Linked DNA regions of Homo sapiens. The protein of the gene in region 1 interacts with the protein of each later gene in a biochemical or structural test. Each region holds a gene or a part of one and is shown on either strand. Other genes may lie near its edges. The genes, in order: CAMTA2 and NKX2-5.

What was found.
Region 2: the proteins of CAMTA2 (region 1) and NKX2-5 form a complex in vitro, tested with the Homo sapiens proteins (one study listed by BioGRID).

The regions. Positions count from the first base shown.
Region 1 is NC_000017.11:4,969,708-4,978,693, forward strand, and holds part of CAMTA2 (calmodulin-binding transcription activator 2), read right to left. Parts: intron 8,924-8,986; coding exon 8,797-8,923; intron 7,486-8,796; coding exon 7,351-7,485; intron 4,975-7,350; exon of another isoform or gene 4,794-4,974; coding exon 4,678-4,793; exon of another isoform or gene 4,653-4,677; intron 4,096-4,652; exon of another isoform or gene 4,063-4,095; coding exon 3,878-4,062; intron 3,547-3,877; coding exon 3,468-3,546; intron 3,285-3,467; coding exon 3,062-3,284; intron 2,830-3,061; coding exon 2,525-2,829; intron 830-2,524; coding exon 633-829; intron 444-632; exon of another isoform or gene 379-443; coding exon 195-378; intron 65-194; exon of another isoform or gene 1-64. UniProt on the Homo sapiens protein: Transcription activator. May act as tumor suppressor.
Region 2 is NC_000005.10:173,232,207-173,241,831, reverse strand, and holds the start of NKX2-5 (homeobox protein Nkx-2.5), read left to right. Parts: upstream 1-6,625; 5' UTR 6,626-6,748; coding exon 6,749-7,082; intron 7,083-7,691; coding exon of another isoform or gene 7,692-7,786; exon of another isoform or gene 7,787-8,323; intron 8,324-8,330; coding exon of another isoform or gene 8,331-8,335; exon of another isoform or gene 8,336-8,367; coding exon of another isoform or gene 8,368-8,489; exon of another isoform or gene 8,490-8,622; coding exon 8,623-9,263; 3' UTR 9,264-9,625. UniProt on the Homo sapiens protein: Transcription factor required for the development of the heart and the spleen. During heart development, acts as a transcriptional activator of NPPA/ANF in cooperation with GATA4.

The DNA.
Region 1 (8,986 bases):
GGAGAGAAGTCTCACCACCTCATGACCCACATAATGGCATATCTGACTTGTCCCTTCAACTTTCCTGGGGTTCCCCTGACCCTTTACCCCATCCAAGGCCTGTCTGCACGACTACTCATCCTCCAAAAGCCCTGGGAGCCCAGTCTCCCCTGACTGGAGATTGTGTAATTCATCCTGAGACCCCTGCCCCTGACCTTGTACTTTCGGAAGGCCGTCTGGATGACTCGGGCAGCCTCATACAGTTCCCGCTGCTCGTGATCTGATAGTGTCAGCAGGGCAAAATCACTTTCCATCTTGCCACTGGTGGATGCAGAGAGAAACTCTGCCCAGGAGGGTGCTGAAGGGACAGCCAGGCGACCTCGCTCAAAGGGCAGTTCGCTGTAGGCGGTAGGGAAAGAGGGTGTCATGAAGCATCTGAAGTCCCTCCTCTGCCACCTATGGATGGCTACGAAGGAAAACCACCAGCAACTGAGTCTGGAGAGTGACTTCAGAGTTCATCAGCCAGTTCAGTTCGCTTCTCCAAGGCCCTGGGGCCTCAGCCAGAATGGAGCTTTGGCTGTGGGAAAGCCAGCTTTCTCCCTTCCTCCCATCTTCCTTTGAAGAATCTGGAGGCTTTGTCCTGAGCTAGTCACCTGGGAGGGGTTGAGCTGGGGAAATGGTCCACATTCTCCAGGTAGCTGGCCAGCCAGGACATGGTCTCACTGAGCCCCACAGCCCCTGTCCGCTCCCGCATTGAGGCTCCAGCCTCGGGCAGCCCCACGAAGTCCTCTCGTTTAATCCGCTCCGGTGTGGCTTCGATGATCTGCTTGGCTAGTGAGATCATGTCCACCTGGAAGAAGGGAGAAGCTGAGTGAGTCCTTAGGGGCCCCAGCTGCCAGCTGTAACCTCAGTCCATTCCTATCTTGTTCCTTCTCTCCCTGCCAGGTGCTGCTAACCCTGTCTTTCTGGGCCACTGTTCCAGACTCATTCATTTATACTGATGGGGCTCCCACTTGGGGGTCCCTCTGTGCTGAGATGCTATGGAGAATATAGGATAAAAAGGAGATACTCCAAGTGGGGATTCAAAGCTGAACAAATGGAGGACTTGACACCCTTTCAGGCCAACCATCCACTGTCCTACCTGGGCCTGCCCCATGCCAGCTGACCAGCACATGCTCCCCATAGGCTTGGCTGTGCCCACCCCCAGCTCCCTTTCAACTCTCCAAGAACCATTCCAACACTTGCCAACTACTACCCGGATGAATGGCTCCAGTCTGGCCTTTGCTCCAGCCCTGAAGCCTATACTCCAGCACTTCCTGCTGGACACACTCAACACAACCTACTTGTGGAGTTCCCTAAGTTTTTTGTACTTAAAGTGCCACCCACTTACTCCATTAGTCTCTCTAAAGCAGGTATGTCCCCAGTCTCTATCAGAGAAGTACAAGGCTATACTTGAAGATTCACTTTCATTCCACAAGACTTTCTTAGCTTTATCATGTGCAAGCCTCCTTCCTGCATCAGATCACTGCCAAATACCCTCATCTTGCCAGCCTTACCTCTCCACACAACTCCCAGCTGCCCTCCGTCATCTTGGTTCTCCTAGAACCTTGTCCCTACATAGATCAACGGTTAACTCCTACAAACCAGCTCTAACTGAAGATATTCCCTAGAATTTTTGTTATAGAGACAGGGTCTCTTGTCCAGGCTGGAATGCAATGGCACAGTCAGCTCACTGCAACCTCATATTCCTGGGCTCAAGGGGTTCTCCTACCTCAGCCTCCCAAGTAGCTACAACTACAGGTGTGTGCCACCATGCCTATTTTTAAAAAATTATTTTGTGTAGAGATGGGGTCTTGTTATGTTGGCCAGACTGGTCTCAAGCCCCTGTTCTCAAGTGATCCTCCCACCTCGTTCTCTGAAAGTGATGGGATTACAGGGGTGAGCCACCGCACCCAGCCAGAATATTTTTTAATGCTTTTTATATTTTAAATCTTACTATTTTGTCTTTTTTTTTTTTTTTTTGAGACAGTCTCAGTCTGTCACCCAGGCTGGAGTGCAGTGGTGCAGTCTCGGCTCACTGCAGCCTGTGCCTCCTGGGTTCAAGTGATTCTTGTGTCTCAGCCTCTCAAACAGCTGGGATTACAGGCACATACCACAGTGCCCAGTTAATTTTTGTATTTCTTGTAGAGAGGGGGTTTCGCCATGTTGCCCAGGCTGGTCTCAAACTCCTGGCCTGAAGTGATCCACCCGCCCTGGCCACCCAAAGTGCTGGGATTACAGGCGTAAGCCACCAAGCCCGGCCAAATTTTTTTTTTCCAACATCTGTATTGTGGGACCAGCCAGAATTTTCAACCTCCGCTGCCTCATGACTTCCAAGTCACATGGTCTAAAAGGAGCTAAGCAAAAGGCTACCTTGCCTGTCCCAAAATGAAGTAAATAGGCCCTTCCTAAACTGAAGCCAGACTTTGATTCTGCTTCATGGAAGTCGGCCTCACCCTTCCTACTCCACTTCTAGCCCCCATAACTCCATCAATATAAGCAGTACCGGGATCACATCCACAGCCTGTGGGCTGTCAGCGTCCTCTGGAGCAGCCCCATCATCTGAAGCTGGTGGGAGGGCAGGAAGGGAGGAGAGGGGCCCCTTGGAGTTGGTAGCCTCATAGTCCATGAGGAGTAGGGGGGCTTCTGGGACACCAGAGGAAAGCTGGCCTGGGGCCATGTCCTCCATAGTCATCTCAGAGGCTGGCAGAGGTGCAGGGGGGGGACTGCCATCTGGGGCACTAGAATAGGCTGACGTGACGGAAAAGGTGCCATCCGACAGCTCCGAGGGCGAGGAGACGCTGCTCAGACCTGTGTGGGGAGGGAAGAGAGTGAGGGCAGCCGGAGCCACGGCCATCCCTCGCTCAAGTCTCCTGCCTTCCCCATCCTGTTCTCGGTCCCCGTCTGTTCTTGCTTCTGTTATCTCCCATCCCTGCCTCTGTGGTTTGTCTCCTCTCTTACTCGTTTCCCACACCCTTTGGCTTTGTCCTGGCCTATCCTCCTACCTACATCCCTCTCTCCAAAAGATTAGGGCCACCCTCACCAGTGTCTGGGCTGGAGGAGGGTGGCGATAGGGCAAATGGGGGCTCCACCGAAGGCTCCTGTCTCTGTAGTTCCTCAAGGCAGCGGGCAAGGCGCACATGACCCCGGGAATGAGCCACAGACAATGGCAGACGGCCCAGAGAGTCGGGAATGCTCAGTGCCTGTCGGTTCCAACGGAAAAGGAGCACAGCAGCTTCCAGGTGTCCCAGGGCACAAGCCCACATCTGAGGAAGGGGGCGGGACAGGCGGAGACGGAGGTGGAGGTGAGGCCAGGGGCTCTTCCTCCAGGTAGTCAGGTCTTCAGGCCCCAGCCCACCCCACTCCCTGCATTCCTCAGGATCTTCCTTTTCAAGGGCTGTTCCCATTGCTCCCTGCCCCATATGCGCTCAGGAATCCGTCATCCTCACCAGAGGGGTGCAAGAGAAATGATCCACGTTGAGCGGGTCAACCTCCTGCTCTAAGTCCAAGCTTCCAGTCTCCACACTCCTGGAGGGTTTGGGAGAGAGACAGCAGAGCCCAATGAGGGAAAAAGTGGGCAAAGCAGGAACATCAGAAGTAAAGGCACTAGGAGGCAAGCTGTACAGGGCCGGTGGGAAGAGGCAGTCAAGGACACTAGCTTAAGGAGGTCAAGAAGTCAAAGTGTTGTAAGTCAGGATATGAAAGTTCCCCAAAATATAAGTCCTCTCCCAACCCCCTCCCTTCCCACAATGACCCCAACTCCCTCTTGGTAGGGCCCCAGGTCCTCCAATTCCTCTTCAGTCCCCTGACACTTCTGTCCCAGAGGCTGCCCAGCCCTCACCCAGCTGCCCTTGCTCACCGCCACTGGCTCAGGGTCTCGATGAGGCGGGCATAGCCCTGGGCAGCAGCCAGGTGCAGAAGGCTCATGCCCCGGAAGGGGCTTCCATGGGCCAGACGTTCAGGACCCTTCCAGGTGGAGCGTGGGATCATGCTTTCTACCAAGACCACTACCCGTGCTTCGAACCCAGGCCCCTGGCCTTCATCCTGCGATATACACACTCTTAGGCAGAGACCCAGGTATCTACTCCCCTGGCTTGAGGTGGCCTTGGCCACCTCACATCTGTCCTCCCAGCTTCTAATTTTGCCCCCTCCCCACATGTCCCACTCTAGGATCCCATCAGTTGAAGTTCCTCTGTGGCCTGTGTCTCTTGCTCCCACAGCCACTTCCTCCAGCAGCCAGACCTCACACAATCTTGCCCATGTGCCTTCCCATCAGCTCAGATTAGTGCCATGTTCACACATGGCTTCTCCCCCTCAGAAGCCAGAGCCTTCTCTGAGCCTTAGCCCTCTTCTTTCAGAAACTTGGGACCCACAGAGATCTGAGCCCCAGTGCTCCTGACCCCTCCCCCGCCCTCTCCTTCACCTCCACCCTTCTTCAGACCAGAAATAGTCTGAAGCCCGTCATGCCAAGAGGGTGCCCAGAATAGCCACTCTTGCCACAAGGTGGGGATGGGAACAGGGTGACGTCAGGGAGAGGGAAGACAGGCTGAGGAGGCTGGGGACAGGAGAGGGAGGAGAGTCATGGGCACTAGATGTTTTCTTTAGCTGTGTCCTCCCCCTGCTCCCCACCGTAGACCACCTCCCTCCTCACAGAAGTACCTGAACTGGAGGAGCATCAGGACCCTGGCAAGGCACCTGCCCAGCTGCTGCGATCTCTGCCATCCGCTTCTCCATCTGCTCCAGTCGCTCTAGTATGGACATCCGGAACTGGTTGTCTGAGGGGGAACGGGTATGGGAGGCTGAGTGGGCAGTCTAGGTGATGCCCTGAACACCAAAAGTAGACCTGTCCCAAGATCTGGGGATGAGGACACAGAACCATATTCTTTTATCTTCCCCAAAACAACAGCTCCTTTACCCCTTCACCTAAATAAAGCCCACCAGGACTCAGTCCTTAAACTAGGGCTGTTAATACTACCCACTGATCTAGAACCCAGATCTGGAACCAAAACTGTTTCCTTCAAGGTACAGAGGTAGTAGGATTCCCAAATGGTCATCCAGCCTCCAGATGTCCCAAATCCCACCCGTACACACTCTTCCCCCCAGCCTTTTCCTAGGCAAAATGTTCTGTCAATTTTTGCAGCAGACACTACCTTTGTCCCCCATGGTGAAGGTGAAGGATTCCAGGGTCCCTCCCTTTTAATAACCACTGCCCCAAAAAGCTCAGGGACTGTGATTTGAAAAGTACCTCCCCTTCCTCCCAGCCCCCCGCAGCTGTCCACAAAGACGATGGTGGGGGACGGAAGGTGACAGAGATGGATAGCCATATAGCCATGTCCATTTCTCCTCCTCCTCCTCCCCGCCCCATATACAAATACGCACGTACACACATATCCCCCCAAGCTATATCTGTCCCCTCCTGAGATCAAACAAGGACAAGAAGGGGAGGCAGGAGGGGATCAGAGCTGTAGGAAAACAGACACAAACGGTGAAGGTTGGAGATGTTCTGAGATGCCAGGATAGAAGGGGATGAAGGTACACAGGTGATAGGAGGACAGAGAATGATGAACAGAAACCCAAGGAAAACAAAGGGAGGAGAGAGAGCAAAAAAGATAAAGTGAAGGAGAGGAGAGAAAGGACAAAGGAGGGCTGGGGGAAAAGTGCCAAACAAGCAGTAAGAAAGGACGATAAAAGACAGGCAAGTTAAGATATTGGTTCAAGAAGAAATGGAAAGAAGAGGGATGGAAGAGACTCATAGGAGAGACGGTAAAACGTAGATTAGACAGGGACAGAGAAATAAGGTGATGAACAGTCACAGGGCAGGACAGAGACAGAACAGGACTGAGAGGCCTGGCCAGATCCCAAGGTAGGCAGACTCAAGTCAGAGACAAGCAACCCAACACACTCGGGCTTTGTGTGGGGTCCAGCTCCAAGAGTGAGGCGAAACTAAGGACCAGAGCTCCGGAGAGAGAGAAGTAAGGACAGAGGGAGACTAAGATAACACAGATGGCAGCAGAACTGAGAGAAGCCAAGAGGCAACAACAAAGACACCAAGAGGAAGAGATAGAGAAAAGCTAACCTTGAGAAAGCAGAAAGCAGCAGGTGCAGACAGAAACAATGTTCAAGGCCACAAGAGAGAGAACCAGTAACAGGAACAAAAACTCCCAGATTTAAATAAATAAATACACACACACATAGATACACGTATGTATGTGCCTCTATGTTTGTGTTAGTACACCATGTTATTAGCAATGGATATCACTGAGAAGTAGTAGTATAGGAAATTTTTTTCTTTTTTTTTGAGACGGAGTCTCGCTCTGTCGCCCAGGCTGGAGTGCAGTGGCACAATCTTGGCTCATTGCAACTTCCGCCTCTCGGGTTCAAGCAATTCTCCTGTCTCAGCCTCCTGAGTAGCTGGGACTACAGGCACCCACCACCACGCCTGGCTAATTTTTGTATTTTTAGTGGAGACAGGGTTTCACCATATTTGCCAGGCTGGTCTCAAACTCCTGACCTCAGGTGATCCACCCGCCTTGGCCTCCCAAAGTGCTGGGATTAGAAGCACGAGCCACCGCGCCCAGCCAGAAATTTTTATTTTCTATTTTGTGCTTTTGTGTAATTTCCAAATTTCTGTTAATGAACACGTCTTTATATCAGAAAAGGAAAAACAATAGAAATTTAAATATATAAGTACAGCCGGGTGTGGTGGCTCACGCCTGTAATCCCAACACTTTGGTAGACCAAGGCGGGGTGGATTGCTTGAGGTCAGGAGTTTGAGACCAGCCTGGCCAACATGGCGAAACCTCATCTCTACTAAAATCACAAAAAATTAGCCAGGCTTGGTGGCAGGCACCTGTAATCCCAGCTACTTGGGAGGCTGAGGCAGGAGGATTGCTTGAACCCAGGAGGTGGAGGTTGCAGTGACCTGAGATCGCGCCACTGCAGTTCAGCCTGGGAGACAGAGCAAGACTCCGTCTCAAAAAAGAAGAGAAAAATAAATAATAAATAAGTACATAAACTTGTGCATAGCACCTATATATTGCTCTAGACCCTGTCCCTGCCCTGCCTCTTAGCCTTCCTTGTCTAGATTCCACCCTTTGGGATGGAGAAGGCAGGTCAAGAACTGGTATAAAAATGACCCCAAGATTTATGGGGAAGAGGAGGTAAGGGAAGTTTGCTGCCACATTTAGAAATCACTAATGAAATAGGAATTGAAAAAAAAAAATGGTAAAGTGGGGGCTCAGTGATGGCCACCTGAACCCTGAGTGGTCTAGGAGCATGTCATGCTTAAAGGCTGTGGGCTGGATACTTGGGTTCAGAGGGCTGGGTACTCACCGTCCAGTGACAGCCAGTCAAGTTGAGTACTAGGCAGAGACAGGAATCGGCGGGCTCGATACTCAAAGAGCACAGAAGCAGAAAGGGGCCCCTCCCGCCCTGCCACCTGCAAAGACACCAGCCCTACCTCATGGGCTGGAGAGGGTAGGATCAGCGAGAAGGGCTCTCTTTCCCTGGCTCCTTCTCTGGCTACCTGTGTCAGCCACAGACAATTATTCCATAGTTATTTCCCCTACTGCCCTGCTGTGGGCCAAGAGGCCCCTGGCTTCAGTGGCCTTGGCACTAACTGGGAAGGGAGTCCATTTGTTTGAGAACTTAATACGTACTATGGGCCAGAGATCCCTTGGATTCTAGACCCTGTAGTTGAAGATATTTGTTATTCAGCAAGAAGGTTTGGAAACTGAGGGTCAAGAGACTAGTTATGAACAATTTGATGTTGGAAAATCCTCTTGATCCCCGGATCAGAGTCTGGAAGTTATGACCCTGTTACTGAGATGGAGGAAAGGGGAGCTAGCCGCTCATGAACAGTGTCCAGTGGCCATAAGCATGGAACCAGCAGGCCCTGATCCTAAGACCAGGTGCTGAGACTTTTTCTCCCAGTCCCCAGATTCTCTGGTCTCATCCCCTTTCCTTACACACATGCTGGATGCTGCTGTAGAGACTGGGGGAGAACACACTCGTAGACAGCAAAGCTGCCAACCTGTCACTTTGGTGGTCCTTGAGGTCCCCTAGTAAGGCTGATTTTTGAGTGTAGGGTAAGGGCAAAGCTGGTGGCAAAAGGGCAGAGATGAACCTTGGCAATGAAGTCTAGACCAGTGCTGTCCAATAGAACATTTCTGCAGTGACAAGAATGTTCTATATCGTCACTATCCAATAGGGTAACACGAGCCATGTGTGGCTACTGAACACTTGAAACATGGTCAGTGAGACTGGGGAAGTGAATTTTAAGTATTCTTTAACTTTAATTAATAGGCACATGTGGCTAATGGCTACCATACTGGACAGCACAGTTCTAAAAGCCAATGTCCTTCAGTCCCAAGACTGGTTAGAGGAAACCCACATTTCTTCTTTCTCATTCCCCCTGGATTGGAGTTGGAGACTCTGGCTCTAAGCCAGAAAGCCTGGACAGACATTAGAAATCCCTTTGGTCAATGCCTAACCTTACAGGAGAGGAGGCCAAGGACCTCAGGAAGGATCAGACTCATCTGAGGTCACTGGTTAGCTAAGGAGTAGACTTCTTGGACCAGAACCTCGATCTTCTGACACCTAAGTCTGGGCTCTTCTGCCTGCTGGGAGAGCTTGGGGCTCAACCTCAGGACTGGATGAAGTCCTTGTGCTCTCAAAACAACCCATTTGTTCCCAGTGCTTTCTGGAAGCCTGGAGGTCCTGATCTGTCCTAACTGCCCACATGTCAGTCCCTCCCCCTACGGTTCCCAATCCTCATACCGGGACAGTAGCAGCGTAAGACACCAGGCTGGACAAGTGAGGCTGGCACTGCGATGTGATCAAAGACACAGGAGTAATGCTCGGCGGCTTCGGTCCAAGGACCTGTGATGAGCACCTTGACCCCACCCTGCAGACAGAAGTCAGAGACCATGTGACTGGAGTTGGGCGTTCATCCCCTCACTCATTCATT
Region 2 (9,625 bases), on another chromosome or scaffold:
TTTGCTATTTAAAGTATCTCAAAACATATCCATAAGAATACATATGAATGGAACTAATTCTTTCTCATGGCATATGGTATTCTGTTCTATTGGTACAACATAATTTTTTAACCAGTCCTCAGGTATATATACACTGGTTTTTTTAACATGTTTTGATTCTTAAAAAAATTAAAAACGGTGATGAAAATACTTTTCTTTGCATATATGTATATACCTATAGAATGGAATCCTAGAAATGAAAATATTTGTTCAAAGAGCTTATTCATTTTTAATTTTGGCAGTACCACATTGCTCCAAAGAGGTTTACCAGTTTACAATGTAGAAGCATGACGAGGCAACTATTACACTTTTTGATCTTCGTCAGTCTGATAAGTAAAAACATTTGCCTCTCTGTGTTTCAATTTGCATTTCTTTATTTCTTTTTATTTTTTCCAGCAAGGCTCTGATACTCTTGGTCATTTTTCAAATATTTTTGCTGGATCATTTTCTTATTGATTTACAGGTATTCTTTCCAAATTGTGGAAATCAGTACTTTGTCATGTATTTCTAGCATTTTTCCTGAGTACAGTTTTCTGTTGGATTCTATTAATGGTATTTTTGCTGTGCACAGATTTATTTTTATGCAATCAGGTTTATATAATTCATCTTTTATAGTTTCTAGGTCTTTTGTTCTCTTAATCCCCCTCTCAAATATAAAAGCACTCCAAAATTATTATTTTAATTATCTGTAGCACTTTTGTGTTTCATTTTTAACGTCCAAATGTTTGATCTATCTGAAATTGAATGTATTTGGTATAAGAAAAATCCATCACATTTTCCTTACGTTAACATCATTTTATTTTGAAAGCATATTGTCATATAGACCATCCCTCCCCCCACCCCAAATAGCATAATATTGCAATTGGCGGGGACTTCTCATCTTAACCAGTTTTACTTTGTTGGTTAGACAACTACCCACGTGCCTGTCTACCTCTGCCCACTGTCCAGGTGAGTTCAGGTAACAACCTGGGATGTCTCCCAGGATAGTGTCGCTGGAAAGGAACGCTGTGTACACCTCATACCACCAAGGAGACAGACACAAAACTGGGGACCAGACAGGAAAAGAGACATGCTCAAGATGAGCCAACTGCTGAAAAGGCAGGACCACACCCACCGCGGGCTCAGAGGCCAGCGCTCTTTCTGACACACGCCTGCCTTTTTCAGGGTCTGTGCATCTTGGGCTGTGCAACCCCAGCACCTGGTACATAGTGGGCACCCACTCAATGTAGGTGAAGGGATGGAGAAAATCAGGCCAAGAATCCAACAGTGACCAAGCTGTGGAGTCACTTGGCAGCTGGGTGAAAGCTACGGTCCACTCTTTTAGCCTCTCCCCTCACAGCCACACACACACACACACACACACACATACGCACAGTATCCACTAGCCATGTGGATCTGCTCTTTCCTTCTGTGGGCTCTAGGCCCTTCCTATGGCTGAGCAAGTTTCCATGGACAGCTCTTAAAGCAGCTTGGAGACTTTCTGTCTGTCCTAGCTGGCTAGCAGGGGGCTGGGGAGGGGTGGGGGGTGAGGGAAGGAAGCCAAAACCCAGCTAGGCAATAGAGAGTTAGTATTTCCAGTGCTCTGCTCAGACAGCCCAGAAAGCAGGATTGACTACATAGTTTGTGGGCTCAGCGCAAAATAGAAATGTGGAGACTCTGCTTAAAAACTTATGAAGAGTTTTAAGACAGCAACAGCGGAACATTAAACCAAGCTCAGGCCCTGTGAGACTGCACAGATGCCATGCCCATGAAGGATAGGGTTAATTATGGAGGAGGGGGAAGGGCCCTTTCAAGGACTCTAAAGCTTCAGACTGTAAGGTAGAAGTGGGCTGGAGGGGTATTCATAATAGACAAAATGTGGAAATAACCCAAATGTTTACCAAGTGATGAATGGACGAAGTGTGGCATAGACATACAATGGAATATTGTTCAGCCATTAAAAGGAACAAGATGCTGATACGTGCTACAGCATGGACGAACTTTGAAAACATTATGTTAAGTGAACGCTGCGAGACACAAACAGCCACATATTGTATGATTCCATTTGTATGAAATGTCCAGAACAGGCAAATCTATAGGGGCAGAAAATAGATTAGCAGTTGCCTAGGGCTGGGAAGGTAGGAGAGGGGATTGGAGTTGATGGCTAAAGACCACAAGTTTGTTTTTGGGGTGATAAAAATGTTCTAAAATTGTGGTGTTGGTTTCACAACTCTGTGGACATACTAAAAATCACTGAACTGTATACTTTAAATGGGTGGATTGTATGGTATGCGAATTATATCTCGATAAAGCTGTTATCAAAATAGGAGAGGGAAGGGAGAAGGGAAAGGAAAAGTGGGAGAGCGAGGGGAGGGGAAGGCGGAAGTGAAATGAACGCATGTTAAATTCCTCTCTCCCCCTCTCTTTCTCAAATGAACTTTATGCAGGAAATCTCCCTTGTCTATGAAGGTTGGGGAGACCTGGCATCTCAAATCCAACAGCCTGGTCCTCTCCCCTGGCTGCGGGGTGGGGGGTGATGGTGGGGGTCTTGCTCTTCCTCCAGTTGGTACGGTCTTGGGCGCAGCGACGTGTAATAAAAGAAAACAGTCTCAGCTGTGCAGTCAGCTGTGTGTTCGAATCCTAACACCCTGACACTGTCCTTTCCCATCTGTGTGACCCTGAGCAACTTACTCCACGTCTCTGAACCTCATTCTCCTCAGGCCTGCAGTCGGAATAAGAGGATCCGTGACGAGATCCGTGAGAGCGCCTGGCACACCCCGTGGGCACTGAACAAGCGTGGAAATGAGAAGGATTTGGTGCCAGCTGAGCCACCTGAATGAGGCGAGTCCCGAGGCAGGAAAAATCCGGTGCCGCGGAGGCCGCCTGGACTCTTCCGGAGCCAAGGGCGAGGTCGGCGGCCCTCAGAGTCGCCCCCCGCCCCCAACTCCCGGCCAGGAAGGAAGCCGGGCGGCGGAGGGGCCCAGCGCGGAGGCGGAGGCGGAGGCGGAGGCGGAGGCCGAGGCCGGGAGTCCGGCGCGCAGCCGGAGCTGCTCATCCATCAGCCGGACGAAGAGCAGAGTCGCGCTCTCGGCCCTCTGTTTGCTTTCTCGCCAATTATTGCAGCGCCGCAGCCCCTTTGTTGATACAGTAGTCCGAAAAAGTGCTAATGTTCATTTATCAGGGGGCCAGCCGGGGACTCCCACGAGTTGCGATTCTTCCCAAAATATAAACATGGGGCGAGCGTCCCAGACAGAAACTCCCATCTGTTTCCCCCGCGCGGGCCGAGAGCGAGGCGTTGTTGAAGATAAAGCCGCGGATAACGCCGCCTGTCTCCAATGGACGTCTCCCCAGCGCATTAATGACATTCCCGGTGATAGTTCCAGCTTATCTTTCAATTAATCATATATACCTTTTGCGACCAGCCCTGCTGATTGCACGAAAGGGGGGCCGGCTCCGGCTGCGCCGATCGCTTTTCAATTAATAATAATTTATTCACGGAGAATGCGCTCGAGCCACCCTGGAATTTGGATTATCTTAAAGCACCAACTCTTTAAAAGTCAAGGAAATACACAGATAGATTTTCGATCTCTTCTCTCTCCTTTTGTCTCTCTCTGCCTTTCTCTAGGCTGAAGGCTGTTTGTTTGTCCTGCTAGTTTGGTCAAAGTGCGGCGCAGAGAGGCGGCCAGGTTGGGTCAGCGGCCCTTGGGAAAAAAAGATGTGTCCCTGTTGGGGGCCAGAGAATCAAGTTTCCTCCCACCCAACCCCCAACTATTGCAATTTCTATTTAGATCTATTTAGAGGGATTTTTTTTTAACTCACTCGGAAACAGTGAGGACTGGAAAGAAAAGCTGCAAATGGCTCTCGGACTTTCCTCTAAGGAGACCAGCATGGGTCGCCCCAATTTCTATTTTGCACGTATTTGTCCGTTTTTGCCCCATCTCCTCTCTCCTGCAACACCAAGACCTTTTTGGAAGCCAAGAGAAATCATTACCCGATTCACAAAGAGCATAGAGAGTGTAACAGTCACTGATCTTGTTCAAATAGGGAGAGTTTTTTTTCCTTCCCTTTTTGTAACACCTGACCCACAGGACTGACAGTTCTAGGAAGCCCCCTTACCCGAAAATAGGAAATAAATCCTTGCCACCTTGATTTGCAAGGGCAATGCTAATTTTTTTCTTTCTCCAGAGCTCTCAAAAAAAAAAAAAAAAAAACCTTACTAAAAACAGGGATCCCGGATGTAGCCTCGATGTCCCCCATTAAACGGTAATATTTCAGGCGTCCGCTCACACTAATCTTTCAAACTGTCATCGCGAGCCGCCTGGCCAGCAGATTCACTTAACAGCGCTCCCAGGACCCTCGTTCCGAGCTCTTTTCAGCGAGACATTTAATTGAATCGGATGTGGCTCGTTTGCCAGACGTCACCGCCTCGGCGATAGGCATCCTCTCCAACGACACCCCCCCCCGCCCGCGCTCGAAAACAATCTTCAAAGGCAAGGCGGGCCCCCAAGCTAGGTTAATTTACAGCCATAACGGTAACGTGGCCAAAAGTCCAGGCGAGGAAGGGCCGCAAGGCCGCTGACATGCAGCTCCGTCCAAGGAGAATTTGGGTTGGGAGGTGAAGAGGTGGGGGGACGAGGTTTCCTGGGCCTTGAACGCCCCACATTTAAGAAAAGGCATCCTCCACAGACTAGACTAACAATTCCAGACCCCCAGTAGTCCCTGGCTCAGAAACTCGAGGCGTGATTTCGGCGTGGCAGCCCAGGCCTGTTACTGACGGCTGGCGCCTAGAAGCCGGGGTCAGGGCGTTGCGCGCCTCCTGGGCTGCCCTGCGGGGCTCACCTCTCTCCCCAGCATGGAGGCCCCAGGTCCTGGGAGTGTGGCTTTGATGAGGGACAGGAAAAGTCCCAACATCAGGCCAATGCTTGACTTCACTTGCGTCGGCGTCTCAGACGGCACACTGTCGGGTTTGAGCACCCAAGATGTACGTTCTGGACAGACACTATTTTGTCCCCATACATGGAGCGTTTCCTCCGCACCTTGGGCGCGCCTGCGGGAGCTGTGTCTTTAGGTAGTTTTTGGCCCTGCGCCGCCTTTATTCTACTCCAAGCGCCTCTTGCCAACCCGCACTCCGCAAAGAGCCAAGCCCTCCACATCCCCATTCTCAGCAAGTCCACGCGTCCCGCCCAGCTTCCCGCCCGCGGTTCCCTGTACCAGCTAGGGCCGTGAGAAGCCAACGCTTTTCCACTGACAAATCCTGTCATCCCCAGCTCTAGAAGGCGTCCTTAACCTGGGCCCGCTCTGCCTGCCCGGACTCCTGAATTGTAAGCAAAATAAAACTCCTCTCTGCAGTGTTCTGGGGAATGGAGAAGACCCCAAGCTTTCATCAGACCTCCCAAGGAGTGCGGGGACCCAGAGAAATGAGGCCACCCGGGCAGGATCTGGCCATGTAGCTGGCGCTCCTGAAACTCTGGCAGATTTGTCTGACTTCTGTGCCCTACTCTACTGACCCTGGGCTAAAAATGATCATGATCACCCCACTTGCCCTGCCCTTCCCCCACGCGCCTGACCGAGCCGCAGGGGTGCCCCACTGGAAGTCCGGCCCAGAGGCCTCAGAGAAATCCTGGCCTAGCTGGGCTCAGAGGAGCCCCGCCTCCCTGAGAGCTAAACCTGGGCTAGGACCCTGAAACCTCGAGGTTGGCAGAAGCCTGAGGGCCTTGCTGCCAGGCAGGGAGGGCACGGGAAGGAGGGAGGTGGGATCGATGGCCTCCAAACAGGGGAAACAAGGTGGCTGGTAGCTGGGGCACTCCACAAGACAGGTGTCTCCTGGGAAGCTGAGCTTACCAGCTGGGATTCCTGATTTATTTCATTATTAAGGGGAGAGGCATTTCCCTGGGAGGGTACTGGCAGTGACTGATGCCCCCTGGAGTTGTGCTGTGCATAACACTACTGTAGGAGGCAGCAACTCCTACCCCACCTGGCCATCACTCACCTTGCCCTTACTTTCGTTGACTCGCCCAGAAGCACCCAGAGCCTGCGGCATGACTGACCCTGTAGGCCAAGCCAAACCAAACCCCCGAATTGTCCAGAATCTCGCCCTGCTGCTATCCCCAAAGCCAGCCCTGTCCTCCAGGCTTCTCTTCCTATTCAGACTCTCCCTCATCCCACCACCTTCAGTAATAAAGCCTTCCTCAAATCACTCTCCTCCCCACCGCTTCCCACCCCATCCTTCTCTCTCCCATGCTGGTTTGGGTGCTGAGGAATATTTCTTCAAACCCACACCCATCCAGCCCTGCCCAGAGGCCTGACTCTGCATGCCTCTGGTAGGCTTTTCAGGCTCACATTAGGGAGCAAACGCAGGCTGCAGGAGCAAAAGGAGACCCTTCCAAATGCGTCGTGGCCCCTTTAAAAAAGCTGGGCAGGGCTTTTTTTTTTTTTTTTTTTTTTTTTTTTTTTTTTTTTTTTTGCCGTATGACTATATTAGGTGACACGAAACTGCTCATCGCTCCTGTCATCGAGGCCCCTGGCCCAATGGCAGGCTGAGTCCCCCTCCTCTGGCCTGGTCCCGCCTCTCCTGCCCCTTGTGCTCAGCGCTACCTGCTGCCCGGACACATCCAGAGCTGGCCGACGGGTGCGCGGGCGGGCGGCGGCACCATGCAGGGAAGCTGCCAGGGGCCGTGGGCAGCGCCGCTTTCTGCCGCCCACCTGGCGCTGTGAGACTGGCGCTGCCACCATGTTCCCCAGCCCTGCTCTCACGCCCACGCCCTTCTCAGTCAAAGACATCCTAAACCTGGAACAGCAGCAGCGCAGCCTGGCTGCCGCCGGAGAGCTCTCTGCCCGCCTGGAGGCGACCCTGGCGCCCTCCTCCTGCATGCTGGCCGCCTTCAAGCCAGAGGCCTACGCTGGGCCCGAGGCGGCTGCGCCGGGCCTCCCAGAGCTGCGCGCAGAGCTGGGCCGCGCGCCTTCACCGGCCAAGTGTGCGTCTGCCTTTCCCGCCGCCCCCGCCTTCTATCCACGTGCCTACAGCGACCCCGACCCAGCCAAGGACCCTAGAGCCGAAAAGAAAGGTGAGGAGGAAACACAGGCCCCCTTCTCCCCTCCTGGGTCGCTTTCGTCCCCAAGAAACTCAGGGCCAGGAGGAGGAGACACGCGCCCTTGGGCCGAGGGCTGGGCTGCGGCGGGGGGTTCAGAATGTAAGATGCCTGGTGTTGTCGCCAGGCTCCCGCGCCCCGCGTCCAATCGGAGGTTCAGAGGAAATGCCGGATTGAAAGGATCAGAAGCAAGAGACCAAAAAACGTTTCCCCCCGGCCTAACAAAGCCCCGGGCGGCTTCGGCTCTGCTCCTGGGTCTGGTAGGAAGTTGAGAAATCGGTTTATGGTAGACAGAACAGAGAGACAAGCAGATAATCTCTGTTTTTAAATCTCCTTTGGATTTACGAATCTTTTTAAAGATCTGATGAGAACCGCTAAACAGAAATTGAAATGTTGCTCACCAGACAGCTTTTGCGTACAATCGGAGGAGGGTCCTGGACCTTCTTTCTGCAGCCCACCCACGACCCGGGTTTCTGGTGCCTTTCTTTCTTTGCGCCAGGAAAGTGGAGTCTGGGATCGAGGGCCTTGATTTTAAAATGGGATACTGCGGACCCTCAGGAATCTGACTTCACTTTATTTTTTCAGCACAACTTGCCGGCGCGGCCAGGGCGGAGAGGTTCCCTCGTGGAAAAGTTAGGAAATGCTGCGCTACCGCGGGCACAAGGGAGTGGACGAGATGAGTGCGGGATCATCCCGCAGGCCATCCCAGGATCGGGGAGGGAGGCCGGCCCCGCTGCAGAAAGGGGCCTTCTGGGAGACCCCCCAGCCCAAGGCAGGAGCCCGGGCGATTCCCGGGAGGCCGCAGGCGCTGGGCGAAGCGCTGGGCGAAGGGCCGCTGCCAGCCGGGAGAGAATTCATAGGTTTGTTGAGGAGCAGAGGCCTGGGAACAAATTCGGGCGGGCACGGCGGCTAGAACTGATCGCTACCAATTCGAGGAAGCCAGCAAGGCAGGTTCCGAGGCCGCCTGCCCACCCGCAGCTTCTTGGACACTGCGCAAACCCTGCTGCGGCCAGGCTGGAGCCTCCGATCACCAAACCAACACTCCCTGGCCTTCTGTTTCTTGATTCCTTAATTTTGAGATAAGACCGTCCCTAGCAGTGAGGCCTCGGCCTCTGTTCATTTAACTTCTCAAACCAAACTAGCCCTAATTCAGTTCACCCCAGAGCATCACCTGGTTTTATTTTTATTTTTTTATTTTTTTATTTATTTTTTTTTTTTTTGCAGCCTGAAATTTTAAGTCACCGTCTGTCTCCCTCACCAGGGTGTGAACTGCCCCGAGGGCAGAGACCTCCCGTTTTGTTCTCCAGCGCCTTGAGCCAGCCTGACTTTCTACAAATGCTGAGTGAGACGTGTCGGTGGCTCCCAGTGCACTTGGCAGAGTGAGCCGCAGCCAGCTGGGCGCTCCAGGCAGGACACAGTGGCCTCCACGAGGATCCCTTACCATTACTGTGCGGCCGCGCTCCGTAGGTCAAGCCGCTCTTACCAAGCGTCTCTCTGCCTCTCTGTTCCCCCTCAGAGCTGTGCGCGCTGCAGAAGGCGGTGGAGCTGGAGAAGACAGAGGCGGACAACGCGGAGCGGCCCCGGGCGCGACGGCGGAGGAAGCCGCGCGTGCTCTTCTCGCAGGCGCAGGTCTATGAGCTGGAGCGGCGCTTCAAGCAGCAGCGGTACCTGTCGGCCCCCGAACGCGACCAGCTGGCCAGCGTGCTGAAACTCACGTCCACGCAGGTCAAGATCTGGTTCCAGAACCGGCGCTACAAGTGCAAGCGGCAGCGGCAGGACCAGACTCTGGAGCTGGTGGGGCTGCCCCCGCCGCCGCCGCCGCCTGCCCGCAGGATCGCGGTGCCAGTGCTGGTGCGCGATGGCAAGCCATGCCTAGGGGACTCGGCGCCCTACGCGCCTGCCTACGGCGTGGGCCTCAATCCCTACGGTTATAACGCCTACCCCGCCTATCCGGGTTACGGCGGCGCGGCCTGCAGCCCTGGCTACAGCTGCACTGCCGCTTACCCCGCCGGGCCTTCCCCAGCGCAGCCGGCCACTGCCGCCGCCAACAACAACTTCGTGAACTTCGGCGTCGGGGACTTGAATGCGGTTCAGAGCCCCGGGATTCCGCAGAGCAACTCGGGAGTGTCCACGCTGCATGGTATCCGAGCCTGGTAGGGAAGGGACCCGCGTGGCGCGACCCTGACCGATCCCACCTCAACAGCTCCCTGACTCTCGGGGGGAGAAGGGGCTCCCAACATGACCCTGAGTCCCCTGGATTTTGCATTCACTCCTGCGGAGACCTAGGAACTTTTTCTGTCCCACGCGCGTTTGTTCTTGCGCACGGGAGAGTTTGTGGCGGCGATTATGCAGCGTGCAATGAGTGATCCTGCAGCCTGGTGTCTTAGCTGTCCCCCCAGGAGTGCCCTCCGAGAGTCCATGGGCACCCCCGGTTGGAACTGGGACTGAGCTCGGGCACGCAGGGCCTGAGATCTGGCCGCCCATTCCGCGAGCCAGGGCCGGGCGCCCGGGCCTTTGCT